Linked DNA regions of Homo sapiens. The protein of the gene in region 2 interacts with the protein of the main gene of each other region in a pairwise test. Each region holds a gene or a part of one and is shown on either strand. Other genes may lie near its edges.

Region 1 (4,312 bases), on a different chromosome or scaffold from region 2:
GTTCGAAAACAGCCTGGAAATCATGTTGAAACCCCATCTCTACCAAAAATACAAAAAATTAGCCAGGTGTAGTGGTGCACGTCTATCGTCCCAGGTACTTGGGAGGCTGAGGTGGGAGGATCGTTTGAGCCTAGGAGGTGGAGGTTGCAGTGAGCCGAGATCGCACCACTGCACTCCAGCCTGGGTGACAGAGTAAGACTCCGTCTCAGAAAACAAAAAAAAAGTAGTAATTGTGATCAGTATGATTTGTGGGCACACGCCCTGAGCCCTGCCCTCCACAAACTGTCCACACATACTTCATCTGCTCATCTCTTGTGAGGCAGACATGGCAGGATTGTCTGACTCCCTTGCAGGAATGTGCACACAGTAGGTGCTCAATAGTCCCAGCCTGCAGGCATTCAGTAAGGGAGTGCCACTGTTTGCTAGGCAGCCTGCCCAGGACTTCACAGGGCCATGGCGAGCATGCAGTGCTTTTCTCACTCCAACTCATGGAAATATTTGCCCCCTCCATGTAAATATTTCTCTCCCCTCCCCCTCCTCCTTCCCCCTCCCCTTCCTTACCCCATCCCCTCCCCTCCCCTCCTCTTTTGAGACAGAGTTTCACTCTGTTGTCCAGGCTGGAGTGCAGTGGCACGATCTCGGCTCACTGCAACCTCCGCCTCTCTGGTTCAAGTTATTACCCTGCCTTAGCCTCCCAAGTAGCTGGGATTACAGATGCCCACCACAACACCCGGCTAATTTTTGTATTTTAGTAGAGACAGGGTTTCACCATGTTGGCCAGCCTGGTCCCGAACTCCTGGCCTCAAGTGATCTGCCCACCTCAGCCTCCCAAAGTGTTGGGATTACAGGCGTGAGCCACCGCATCTGGCCCCTTGTAAATATTTCTGTTGGTTGGAGTTAGAAAAGCACTCCATGCATGTTATAAAATAATTCCAGCAGAAAGAGAACGACTCCCCCACCCTGCCCCACTGCACACATGATGCCCACACATGCTCTGTCTGACCCACCCCCCCCCGCTGGTTCCAGGGAGCTGGCTGCCACCTGCTTCCAGGAGTGTCTCCCTGTGCCTTTATATCTCCGTCCTCTCTGAGCCTCAGTGTTCCTCTCTGTAAAATGGGGCTGTGATTTCTTGTTCACACCTGGTTACAGAGTTAACTGAGACTTAGAGCTTGTGGGACAATTCTACACAGAACTCCTGGTTTGCTGGTGGGAGGGAGGGGTGTGGAGTGGTCCTCACACCACGTTCCCCACCAGGAGAGAGCATTCCAGTGCTGAAGACGGCACTGCCGGAGGGGCTGGGGCCCTACTGTGCAGAGACACACCGGCGGCACACACTCTTCTGCGGGACCCTCATCTTGCAGGCCCGGGCCTATGTGGGACCGCACGTCCTGGCAGTGGTGACCCGCACAGGTATGAGCCGGGAGGCTGGGCTTGAGAGAGATCCCGGGCTCAGCACCCTTGGGAGAGGTGGAGTGAGGCAGGGTGGGACCTGGAACCCTGGACCCCACGCCCACCTCTGCTGCTGCCCTGCTGTGGGACCTCGGGCCAGTTGCCCCCCATCTGGGGTCTGAGCATTCCCATCTTAGCAGAAGTTGGGCCAGACTAAGGCCAAGCATTGCAAGATCTGGAGGAGCCGCCGGGGTTACAGTGCTGGAGCGGGCAGGGATGTAGCGGGCAGGCAGGAGCCTTCCCTGTGTCTGGATTTTCAGTGGAACCACCCAGTGTTTAGATGCTATCCACTAGTTCCTTGTTTAAAGCCCTTAAAAAGCCTACAAGAGCCGGGCCAGACCTGTTAGGACTCCACACTGCTGATGGCTAATTTCACAAACATCATGTCTTGCAACTCCAGAGGCACGGGTCGGGAGGGCTAGGGGTGGGGAAGGCCTGCCCTCACCCTGGCTTCCCTGCCTTGGGGTCCCCGCCTCCTCCCCAGGGTTCTGCACGGCAAAAGGGGGCCTGGTGAGCTCCATCTTGCACCCCCGGCCCATCAACTTCAAGTTCTATAAACACAGCATGAAGTTTGTGGCTGCCCTCTCTGTCCTGGGTGAGTGGCCCCCTGCACCCTCCTCTGCCCATAGCCCCCCCCACCTGGGTCCCAAATCCCACTCAGTCCTTCGCTGTCCCCACAGCTCTCCTCGGCACCATCTACAGCATCTTCATCCTCTACCGAAACCGGGTAAGCCTTGGGGGTGGGGTGGGGGGTGCTGCCAGCAGGGCCCAGGGGCCAACCAGCCAGGTGCTCACATTCATGGTGCCCCCTGCCAGGTGCCTCTGAATGAGATTGTAATCCGGGCTCTCGACCTGGTGACCGTGGTGGTGCCACCTGCCCTGCCTGCTGCCATGACTGTGTGCACGCTCTACGCCCAGAGCCGACTGCGGAGACAGGGCATTTTCTGCATCCACCCACTGCGCATCAACCTGGGGGGCAAGCTGCAGCTGGTGTGTTTCGACAAGGTGGGGCCGCAGGTGGGGTTGGTGCAGGGGAGCGGGACAGCCACAGGCGCCCCAGTGAGGCCTCCACACCCGCGTTATTCTCTCAGCAGCACCCACAGGATGCCAGGTCCTGTCTAGGGATGGAAACCCCCAGAGGATCCACCCCATCCCACTCCTGCCCTCACTGGGCTCACGGTCTGGCAGATGAAATGTCTAGAATCATGTATTCATGTGTTCAAGAACTGGTGGGGGGCCGGGCGCGGTGGCTCACGTCTGTAATCCCAGCACTTTGGGAGGCTGAGGCAGATACATCACTTGAGGTCAGGAGTTCAAGACCAGCCTGACCAACATGGCAAAACCCCGTCTACTAAAAATACAAAAGTTAGCCAGGCATGATGGCACATGCTTGTAATCCCAGCTACTCGGGAGGCTGAGGCAGGAGAATCGCAGAGGTTGCAGTGAGCCAAGATCATGCCATTGTACTCCAGCCTGGGTGACAGAGCAAAACTCAAAAAAAAAAAAAAATTACTGGTGGGGACCTGGGGCCCTAGTGTGCATCCCGTGCTGCTCCCAACCCTTGGGGCCCAGCAGTGACCAACACAGGCATCCTTGTGGTCACTGGAGTGTGTGTGTCCCCCACCAAAGTAAGTGATCCAGGAGTGCACAAAGGAGCTGCTGGGGCTGAGGAGTGGGCAGTGGGTTTTAGGAAGGAAGCCAGTGGGATAGCTTGATGGGTTCTAGATGGGGACACTTCCTTAGAGAGAAGGCAGTCAAGGAAGCCCCCTGAGCAGGTCCCTCAGTGACCTCAGTGAGGGGCAGGTCGAGGAGAAGCAAGGGTAAAAGGTGGGAGTGTCATAGCACAGATGTACCGTGTGCCTGGGGCACAGGGAGTGGCGTGGCACAGATGTGCTGCGTACCTGAGCACAGGGAGTGGTGGAGCAGGACAGGGCCGGGTAGGCAGTGGCCTGGTTGACAGAGGCTAGGTGACATTCAGAGGCTGTCGGGGGCCACAGAGCGCTTTTAAACTGGGGAGGGGGCCCAGCGCAGTGGCTCATGCCTGGAATCCCGGCACTTCGGGAGGCCGAGGCGGGTGGATCATGAGGTCAGGAGTTCAAGACCAGCCTGGCCAATATGGTGAAACCCCGTCTCTACTGAAAATATAAAAAATTAGCCAGGCACGGTGACATATGCCTGTTGTCCCAGTTACTCGGGAGGCTGGGGCAGGAGAATCGCTTGAACCCGGGAGGCAGAGGTTGCAGTGAGCTGAGATCACACCACTGCACTCCAGCCTGGGCAACAGAGTGAGACTCCGTCTCAAAAAAAAATAAATAAACCGGGGAGGGGGATGACCAGATTCTTATAGTTCCCAGGCTAGCCAAGGAGCCAGACGCGTACTTGGGCAGTTAGAGTCTAGGATGGGGAACGCAGGCACTGACTCATGCGCTCATTCAACAGATATATTGAGGCTGGGCGTGGTGGCTCATGCCTGTAATCCCAGCACTCTGGGAGGCCAAGGCGGGTGGATTGCCTGAGGTCGGGAGTTCGAGACCAGCCTGACCAACATGGTGAAACCCCGTCTCTACTAAAAATACAAAAATTAGGTGGGCGAGGTAGCGCGTGCCTATAATCCTAGCTGCTCGGGAGGCTGAGGCAGGAGAATCACTTGAACCCGGGAGGTGGAGGTTGCAGTGAACTGAGATTGCGCCACTGCACTCCAGCGCGGGCGACAGAGCAAGACTCCATCTCAAAAAATAAAAATAAATAAAAATAAAAATAAATAAATAAATAAATAAATAAATGAGAGAGAGAGAGCGAGCCAACCGTGGGCCGGGTCCTTAACCACAATGCACAAGTGTGGGGAAGTGAAGAGGCCATGGGT
Region 2 (5,213 bases):
GACAAGAATCTTTGTGCTTGATAGGAATGTTCTAAAATTGGATTGTGGTGATAACTGCGTAACTCTGTAAATTTACTAAAAAGTCACCGAATTGTACAATTTAAAAAATGGATGGATTTTATATGCTATGTAAGTTACATCTCAGTAAAACTGTCTTAACAAAGAGAAATACAGGGCAATACCTCACAGAATTGAGGACAAAGCAAGCTATGGAGAAACAAACAGCTGCAATGGAGGGAAGGAACCAGATAAACATAACACAGTGGTTAAGAGTTGTGGATCCAATATAATTTGATTCAAGAAGCTACACAAACTTTGGGAAAATATCTAATCTCGCTAAGCCTAGTTTCCCCATCTATACCTTGTAAGGTTGTTGTAAGGATTAAAGGAGATAAATCTAAAACTCAGGAAAGTACTGAACATTTAAGTACTCAAGAAATATTAACTAATACTTAACAACAGTATTAAAAAATAAAGATTTTCAGATTTTTATTTCACTGAATTTTAAATTAGGTTTATTTATGAACTGTTTAAAGCCCAAGCCCCAAATACTTAACCACATAACCAAGAATGAAGATACTGAGCTCAATCTTTTTTTCATTTTAAATTGTTCAAGTAAACCACCAGCAAAAAATCGTCTAACTATAGGAAGCTAATAAAAGACAGTAAGCAAATTGACAACTGAAAGAATAAGAAAAGATTCCCAGCTAAATAAATGAGTCCAAAACAAAATACTGGCATATAAACTTCAAGAATCAATCTGCAATTACAAGTCAAAAAACTGAGAAGAGGAGTGAAGCCTCTCAATATCAGCCCTTTCACTCTAGAGCTAATTATAAATGAATTCCAACTTGAAGAAAATACAGCCCAAATGCCACTGCAGGAACCAAGTAGGAATAACTTTGTACAATTCACTGCCCCGGCTAACAACCAAAAGGAGCCAGCCTAGAACTTCACAAAGAAGTCATAGAGCTGTTAATTTGAGCAAGGTGATCAAAACAGAACAGTTAACTTAAGGCTACTACATGCCAAATGCACACATGAAATTCAAAACTGGTTAAATATGTACACTTGCACTGCTGTGAGGGAGCAGATAGACCATTATTGCTAAAATAAATCCTCTGTTTTAAAGTCAGGCTACATTTTTAAAGAAAAAAGCAACATTACAAAAACCTTTTGTTTTAAATTGAAACCAAATTGCTGTCTGCCATGGAAACCATTTGACCAAGAGTCAGCCAGCTTCACCTTTTACTATGAGGATAATTTATCAATGCCAAGTCATAACAAACATCCTGTACACAGACTCAATTCCATCTCTCTGACTCCCTGGCCCCCTTGCCAGGGACTCTAACACACTCCAAAACACAGGCTTCTGCTTTTCAGAGTTAGATAAAGAAGCCACAGCTAAATACAACAATTTTCTTACCAGGTCTTGCTGGTTGCTAGAGAACCAGATGGTGATCCATAGGGGTGAGAATGAAGAATAACATTCTCATTAAGAAGAAAAACAGAAGAACTGGTGTTCTTCCAAACTGGAAGTCCCTTAAAATGTCCTAAATCAGTATACTTTCTCCAACGTGCCCTCTCTCTATAGGGAATTAAGAGTAAGGAGAACAGGCAAAGTGTGTTTCTTAAGTATAAAAAGAAGTTGTTTTAAATATGGATTTTTTTTCCCAGCTCTGAAAGCATCTCTCTGTTGTTAAAAAGCAATTTAAAACATCCTTAAATAATTTGTTATAAAATATATCTCATGATATTCTTTGTAGCTAAAAGTTTAATAAACATACTTTCTTTCACAGAGGTTCTTTATTCACAAATGCTACCTGTTAAAAATATATTCCTTATGCGACTACTCATTTCCATAGTTATCAACTGTGATATCAATGACTATGAGATTTGACAGAAAAGATACAACACGTAACTTTTTTCAAAAATATGTTATTTAAAACACTAAAATAATTTATAAAATAGCATTCAAGTGATGCCACAGAACAAAACACTCCTATTCTATAACCATGTGTGAAGACTGTGAAATTAAGTGACTGGTCTCCCAAAGCAGTATAACCTAGAGAGCTGATTATAGAGAAAACAAATCATGAAGAATTCCAATAGTTATAAAATTTTTCATTTTGGATAATATCTTCTTACCATCTTTGCAGGTTTTTCCATTCTCCAGGAGTTTGACCCCAGTGGGGCAAGCACACTGATAAAAAGGCTTGACTGGAGACATCAAACACAAATGGGAACAACCCCCATTGTCAATTCCACATGGATTTGTGGCTGTCAAATATAAATCACATTGATTAATATCAATGATTACTAAGTACACAAAGGTTAACAACCATAACATGAACAACTGTGATAAGCCAAAATTATTACCAAATGTCATGCAGGTGCTTGACTATCAAACCATCTGCAAAGACAGGAATTAATCAGTGTGAATTTACTTAGTATTTTGTAACCAAAGAGGAATACACAAGAAGTAAAGCAGGAGATCCCTGCCCTAAAAGAGGTTACAATTTAGTCAGTTAAACAAAATTAACAAAAAGCAAAACTAAAAACAAACAAACAAACAAACAAAACCAATAAAACTAAGTGCTATTTTGCACATTATAGACAATAAGTACAGAGTCAAATGGGAAAAAAACCGCTGAGGTTTAAAGAATTGAAGAAGAGCTTTGTGGAGTATACAGCACGGGAGCCTTCAAGGATAGGAAGGATAGATAAGAGGACATTTCAAGTATGGTAAAGCTATCTGAATAAAACTTTGGGGGCTATAAACTGGGTAAGATATTAAGGTGAACAGTATAACTGGAGGTTAAGGTTTCTACTGACTAATAGGAACTAAAGCTGAATGAATACAAAGAATGGGAATAGATTAAAGTGAAGGACACTGAAAGCCAAGAAAAGTAATTATGTTGAAAAGTCATGCCTTGGGAAGATTAACATAGAAGGGATAAGCAGAAAAAAGGGGAAAATGAAAATCAGAGAAAACTAATTAGCAAACTTTGGAAATTATGGAAAGGGATATGTCCAAACAATACTCATAGAAAAAAATCAACATAAGATGGAGACCAATGGAACATGAAAGATAAAAGTAACCAACATGAAAGATAACTGCAAATTCTCAAATTAGTAAAACATAAAGGACCAACAATGCCATTTAAAAAGAAAAACAAGAGGCCAGGCACGGTGGCTCGTGACTATAATCCCAGCACTTTGGGAGGCCTAGGTGCGTGGATCACTTGAGCCCAGGAGTTTGAGACCAGCCTGGGTCACCAACATGGTGAGACCCTACCTCTATAAAAAATACTAAAATTAGCCAGGTGTGGTGGCATATGCCTGTAGTCCCAGCTACTAGGGAGGCTGAGGTGGAAAGATCACTTGAGCCTGGAAGTTCGAGGCTGCAGGGAGCCGTGATCACATAAACGCACAACAGAGCAAGACTCTATCTCAAAAAACAAACAAAAAACAGGGAAAATTCTCTTTTGAGGGCTATGAAGAATAAAAAAATTCATACAAGTGACTGAACATTTTCTTTTGTACAGAAGAGTAACACATACACTTAAAAACATTTTTATGGGCTCATGATCATCAGATTCCAACATAACACTTTCAATATTTGATTATCTCCCCCTAAATGGAGAGCTAATATAAAGCAACATATGTTGCAAAATCTCTTCATTTTTGGCTATGTAATAAAATCTGAAATACACTCAGACAGATGCCAGACATTTATTTACACAAAAGTGCCAAACCCTTAACATTCTCGTATTCCTTTTAAACCTAATTCCAGTCCTCTCTTACAAGTTCTCAGCAGTCATAGCCCGAGTCATTGTAAAGGCTGACCAAACACAGAACCAAAACTAAGGAAAACAAGGTGGGAGGGGTACACAGAAAAGTTTAAGTAGGTATTTTATTTAGCAAGCTGAGGTACTTAAATTCAAATATATTCTAGATTAACAGAGTTTTCATTTAAAAAGAAGAGGCGTTTTTGTGTGTGTGTGTGTTTTTTGTTTTTTTTTTTTTTGAGACATAATTTCTTTCTTGTTGCCCAGGCTGAAAGTGCAATGGCGTGATCTTGGCTCACTGCAACCTCTGCCTCCCGGGTTCAAGCGATTCTCCAGCCTCAGCCTCCCAAGTAGCTGGGATTATAAGCACACGCCACCACGCCTGGCTAATATTTTTGTTATTTTAGTAGAGACGGGGTTTCACCATGTTGGCCAGGCTGGTCTCAAACTCCTGACCTCAAGTGATCCACCTGCCTTGGCCTCCCAAAGTGTGGGATTACAGGCATGAGCCACCGCGCCTGGCCCAAGAGTTTGTTTTTTAAACACACTCACATCAACACATTCAACTACATACTGAAAGAAATAATATGAACAAAAAAACTCATTTGTGTATAAGCCTAGCATATAAGCTATCTCAATTTTTAAATTATCTCTCTCTTCTCCACCTCTAAAAGCGCTGACTCAAAAAGGCTGAGGTGGTCTGTAGTGACAGGCTACAAAATGGTCTAGGCTATTGCCTAACCTGAATTATACTTTTACATTTTCCCTTTTTTTTGAGCAAAGTCTCGCTCTGTTGCCCAGGCTGGAGTGCAGTGGCACAATCTCGGCTCACTGCAATCTCCACCTTCCGGGTTCAAGTGACACTCCTGCCTCAGCCTCCCAAGCGGCTGGGACTACAGGTGCACACTACCACACCCCATTAATTTTTGTATTTTTTAGTAGAGACAGGGTTTCACCAGGTTGGCCAGGCTGGTCTCAAACTCCTGACCTCATATGATCTGCCTGCTTCAGTCTCCCAAAGTGCTGGGATTTTAACTTTTTTTTTTTTTTTTTTGAGACACAGTCTTTCTCTGTCTCCCAGGCTGGAGTGCAGTGGCGCAATCTCAGCTCACTGCAACCTCGGCCTCCCGAGTTCAAGTGATTCTCTTGCCTCAGCCTCCCAAGTAGGATTTTAACTCTTTTTTATTCCCGCCAACTATCTTTGGATATGCCCTCCCTCCTCCTGATCCTCACTAAAGCCAGACATTAGAGTGCTACAAAGCTGTTCCAACTTGCAATTTAAAAATCAAGGATCACTTACCATTTGGCTGCCTCTGTTGGCTGAAGGCATGTATATCCATGGGAGAGAAGATGTCAGAATGGATTTCACGCAGACCCTCACCAGTATACTTGTTGCAAGCCAAAATGGAGTGTGTGCTCCAG
Region 3 (4,312 bases), on a different chromosome or scaffold from region 2:
TGGACTTGTCCATTTATATCCTAGGGTAATGACCAGAAGAATTACAGTATAATTTTCTGACAATAATGTGATTCTGAATGAATTGTTCAAATACTTGAAGTTGGAAATTTGCCTACATTTGTATACCTTGTTACCCTCATTGCAATCTATAGCTCTTCCTGTTTACTTTTCATCTTTTTTCTCATGTTTCTATACAGCTTCCTCAAATTGTATATATCACATTAAAGAGGCGTGTGTGTGTGCGTGTGTATACATATGTTTGTGTGTGTATACACACATGCACATACCTGGTTTTACTTCTCATTTTTGTTTGGCTTAATTTCTTTTGTATAACAAGATATTAACAATCATACTATTTGGAAAAGATGAACAAAAGAAAACAAGTCTTACAAAATACAATTAATCTTTTTTCCTGGATTCATTTTAGCATCAAAAGTTGTAAGGAGTCATTTTTAAAAGTTGGAATATAATATTTTTCTGTTCAGTAGTGTGCTTATCATTTTTACGTATTATGTTATTATGATTATTTTTGTTAATGGCTGCCATTTATTAAGAATTTACTATGTCAGACATTGTTGAGGAGCTTTACATGCATAGTCCTTGTAATAACCCTTAGGTACTAATATCTACATTTTCAAAATGAGGAAACTGAGAATTAGGTAATTTAAATAATTTACCCACTCACACATCTATTAAGTGATAGAACCAGGATTCAAACCCAGAGCATGTGTCTACAAAATCCATCCCCTAACCGAGGCAAAATTTTCTGATTATTTATGTTTTGCAGCTTTGTCATGAAAATAATGAACTTGAAAGCAAGTTACTATAAATTTTATAAATCATAGATCAGTAATCCTTCAAAAATTCTAGTTAGGAGTTAAGACTGAAATTTTGCAACAGGAAAATCCATAGATATTATTATGGAAAGTATACAACTCAGAGTTGTATAGAGCAGACAGAAGAAAATTGACTTGAACTAATATTGTATTAAGGATAAAGCTTATTACAAAACAATACTACTGTAGGATAGGAAATTGTATTCTTTGGCTACATGGACTAGACTTTAAGAATACAATTTTTTTTGAACATAAAAATTGGTGATTCTTGGCTTCTGGTCATCCCACCTTAAAAACCCATAACTCACAAAATGAATAAATAGAATTAAATGAACTTAGGGGATAGGGGCATAAAGGAGGGAGAAAGCAAAACAAAAAACAAAATAAAACAAAACAAAAAATAAGCAGTGAAATTAAAGGCATTCTAGGTATAGGCATCTTTTTAAAAATTCAAATATCCGGTTCATCTGTGATTAGATAGACTATTGTTTGATTTTCAGAATGTTACTCAATTATATCTCTTCTTTTTTTTTATTGTGGGGAAATATATGTAACATAAAATTTACCATTTTAACCATTTTTAAATGTATAGTCCTGTGGCCTTAAGCGCAATCATGTTGTTGTACAGTCATCACCACCATCCATCTCCAGAACGTTTTTCATCTTCCCCAACTGAAACTCTACCCATTAAACATGAACTCCACATTCTTCCTCCTCCAGGCCCTGGCAACCACCATTCTACTTTGCGTTGCTATGAATTTGACTACTCTAGGTACCTCGTATCAGTGGAATCATATGATATTTGTCATTTTGTGACTAGCTTATTTCACTTAGCATAATGTCTTCAAGGTTCATCCATGTGGTAGCGTGTGTCAATTTACCTTCTTTTTAAGGCAGAATATATTCCATTGTATGTATATACCACATTCTGTTTATCCTTTCATCCATTGGTGGACGTTTGGGTGGGTGGCTTCTACCTTTTGGCTGTTGTGAATAATGCTGCGATGAACATAGGTGCACAAAATATCTGTTTGAGTACCCTTTTTCCTCTTAAAAGTGAACCAGTTTATAGAAGACAATGATCTAGCTTGTGTGTAGTCCCTTAACTCTAAAACCTTTCTTAAAAATATGACCAGATATTTTTTAAAATGAAATGCCTATCCTGAATTAAGTTTTTATTTATAAATAAAATTATAAACTTTTAATTTTAATAAAATTATTTAAACTTTTAGAATTAAAGTACTTGTCATAGTCAAGTTGTATGTTCAAATATGACCGGGTATTTTTTAAATGAAATGCCTATCCTGAATTAAGTTTTTTAAATATATATATAAACATAATCTTTTAAATGTAAAGTACTTGTCAAAGTCAAGTCATATGTTCTCCTAATTGAAATTTTGATTTTAGATTGAAATAAAATCTTATAAAGAGGCTGAGGATTTCTTCTCAATTGTGAAAATACATAGTATTTGTGTAGGTAATGAAAAGTTTATGAGAAGTACATGGAACTATTATAAATAGACTATTCTTTGTCTGACCTTGAAGGATCTGGGTAAAAGCAGGAAAGATTATAGAAAATACGAAGCAGGATGGAGAGCTCAGAATTATTGATAAAAGTCTATCCATAGAATTTGGTGATAAAGTCCACAAATTACCCTATTTATCATTGCTCAAGACTTCAAAGTAGAAATATTCTTTGTCCGAGCTGAAGGAGATAATTTCCAGTATTGTGTTTATGGCTTTTATATATTAGAAAGCAGAGGCAGATTCATTTCCCCAATTTTAGTACTTAGAAAACATACTTTTATAGAGAGGAAAATTACCACTAATATAGATGAATATAAACATCTCAGTCAAAAAAGATTCCTGGCCGGGCGCGGTGGCTCACGCCTGTAATCCCAGTAATCCCAGGCCAGCGGATCACGAGGTCAGGAGATCGAGACCATCCTGGCTAACACGGTGAAACTCCGTCTCTACTAAAAATACAAAAAATTAGCCGGGCGTGGTGGCGGGTGCCTGTAGTCCCAGCTACTCGGGAGGCTGAGGCAGGAGAATGGCATGAACCCGGGAGGCAGAGCTTGCAGTGAGCCAAGATTGCGCCACTGCACTCCAGCCTGGGTGACAGAGCGAGACTCCATCTCTTAAAAAAAAAAAAAAAAGAAAAAGAAAGTTTCCTTAAAATTTTGGCTAATAAATTTCCCAGCAAAATGCAGATCTATTTCTTTATGTAAATTCAAGTTGGCAGTAATTTTTCTAGAACACATTAAGTAATTAATAGATGTATTCTTATTCAGCAAAACAGGATTGTGGTCTGTCACCACACTTAAAAGACTATCTTTTTTTCTCCTTTGTTGTACTTAGACCTCTCGGCAGTGAAATAATTATGCAGGTGCTGGCAGTTCTAGAACTTGATTGTGAACTATGCCACTTTTGTTGAACTACTTAATTCTAAGAAATTAGCAATGAAAGTTTAGCCCTTTCTAGGGAACAGTATGACCACATAAAAGGTGATGTGCTGTGTTTTGTTTTGGAGTTTTATTTTGTTCTGTGTGGGTTAGTGGGGTTGTGTGTCAGGGGAGTTTGAGGGGGGATTGATTGCTTGCATGGTACAAATATTCACTTTCCATTAGATTTTTTGAGATACTGAAAATAGCTAACAAACCTACTTTATTACTTTCAAAGGTCCTAGCTAGATTGGGTACTTATGGGATTCATTGTAAACTGAATTTGCTTTTATATTTTGGTGTTGTAATCTGGCATTTTTCTAAAGCAGTATGAGTTTAAAGCCATTATAAGCAGCATAATATTTTCCCTGTCATAGTAGACCATCGTGTGATCATTTTTATTCTTGATTATTTGGGTAACCACTCTAGGCTCATTGTGAACACTTAGATTAAACAAGTTCCTCCTCCCTCTCATTTAATATTAGTCTTTATGGTAGCATCACCCAGATTGATTTTTCTTATGAAAAGAAAAGCTGTATGAATCACCTCTGACTGTACATTATTGTTATGGAAGCTCATTCTGGAGATGTTAAGGCCAAACAATTTTTGGCAAGTGGTTGTGGCAAGACTTCTGGCTAAAGTATGCATTTTGGGGAAATAAATTAGATGTATCACAAACAATGCAAAATTAATTAGTTTAATTTACAACCTACATTTTTTGCCTTTTTATAAAAGAGATGATGGCCTGAGTCCTAAAACTTATACCTAATTTGATAGTTTCAGTTTATTAATTACAAAATGAGAAACATTTGTCAGATTTTATAGGCACTTAATTTAAGGTACAGTTTGGAACCTAGGTTGTTGTACGCTCTTTACTCAAAATTATCCACATGAAGCATGGTGAACTATCTGCTCAAACTGGAATCCTCATTTTAGCCATGAGGTTAATGCACTCCTTCGTTATCCCAAGGTTGTGCTAATGTGCAGAGATGTAGCCACAAAATTCCCAGCAGAATGTGGAAACTAAGCAGC

Evidence for each region. The genes of interacting proteins can lie anywhere in the genome.
Region 1: the proteins of LRP6 (region 2) and ATP13A2 interact in a two-hybrid assay, tested with the Homo sapiens proteins (one study listed by BioGRID and IntAct).
Region 3: the proteins of LRP6 (region 2) and AMMECR1 interact in binary tests that used the Homo sapiens proteins (3 or more experiments, as listed by UniProt).

What each region holds. Positions count from the first base shown.
Region 1 is NC_000001.11:16,994,118-16,998,429, reverse strand, and holds part of ATP13A2 (polyamine-transporting ATPase 13A2), read left to right. Parts: intron 1-1,254; coding exon 1,255-1,410; intron 1,411-1,933; coding exon 1,934-2,044; intron 2,045-2,129; coding exon 2,130-2,176; intron 2,177-2,265; coding exon 2,266-2,454; intron 2,455-4,312. UniProt on the Homo sapiens protein: ATPase which acts as a lysosomal polyamine exporter with high affinity for spermine. Also stimulates cellular uptake of polyamines and protects against polyamine toxicity.
Region 2 is NC_000012.12:12,181,832-12,187,044, forward strand, and holds part of LRP6 (low-density lipoprotein receptor-related protein 6 isoform b precursor), read right to left. Parts: coding exon 5,092-5,213; intron 2,281-5,091; coding exon 2,149-2,280; intron 1-2,148. UniProt on the Homo sapiens protein: Component of the Wnt-Fzd-LRP5-LRP6 complex that triggers beta-catenin signaling through inducing aggregation of receptor-ligand complexes into ribosome-sized signalosomes.
Region 3 is NC_000023.11:110,258,275-110,262,586, reverse strand, and holds part of AMMECR1 (nuclear protein AMMECR1), read left to right. Parts: intron 1-4,312.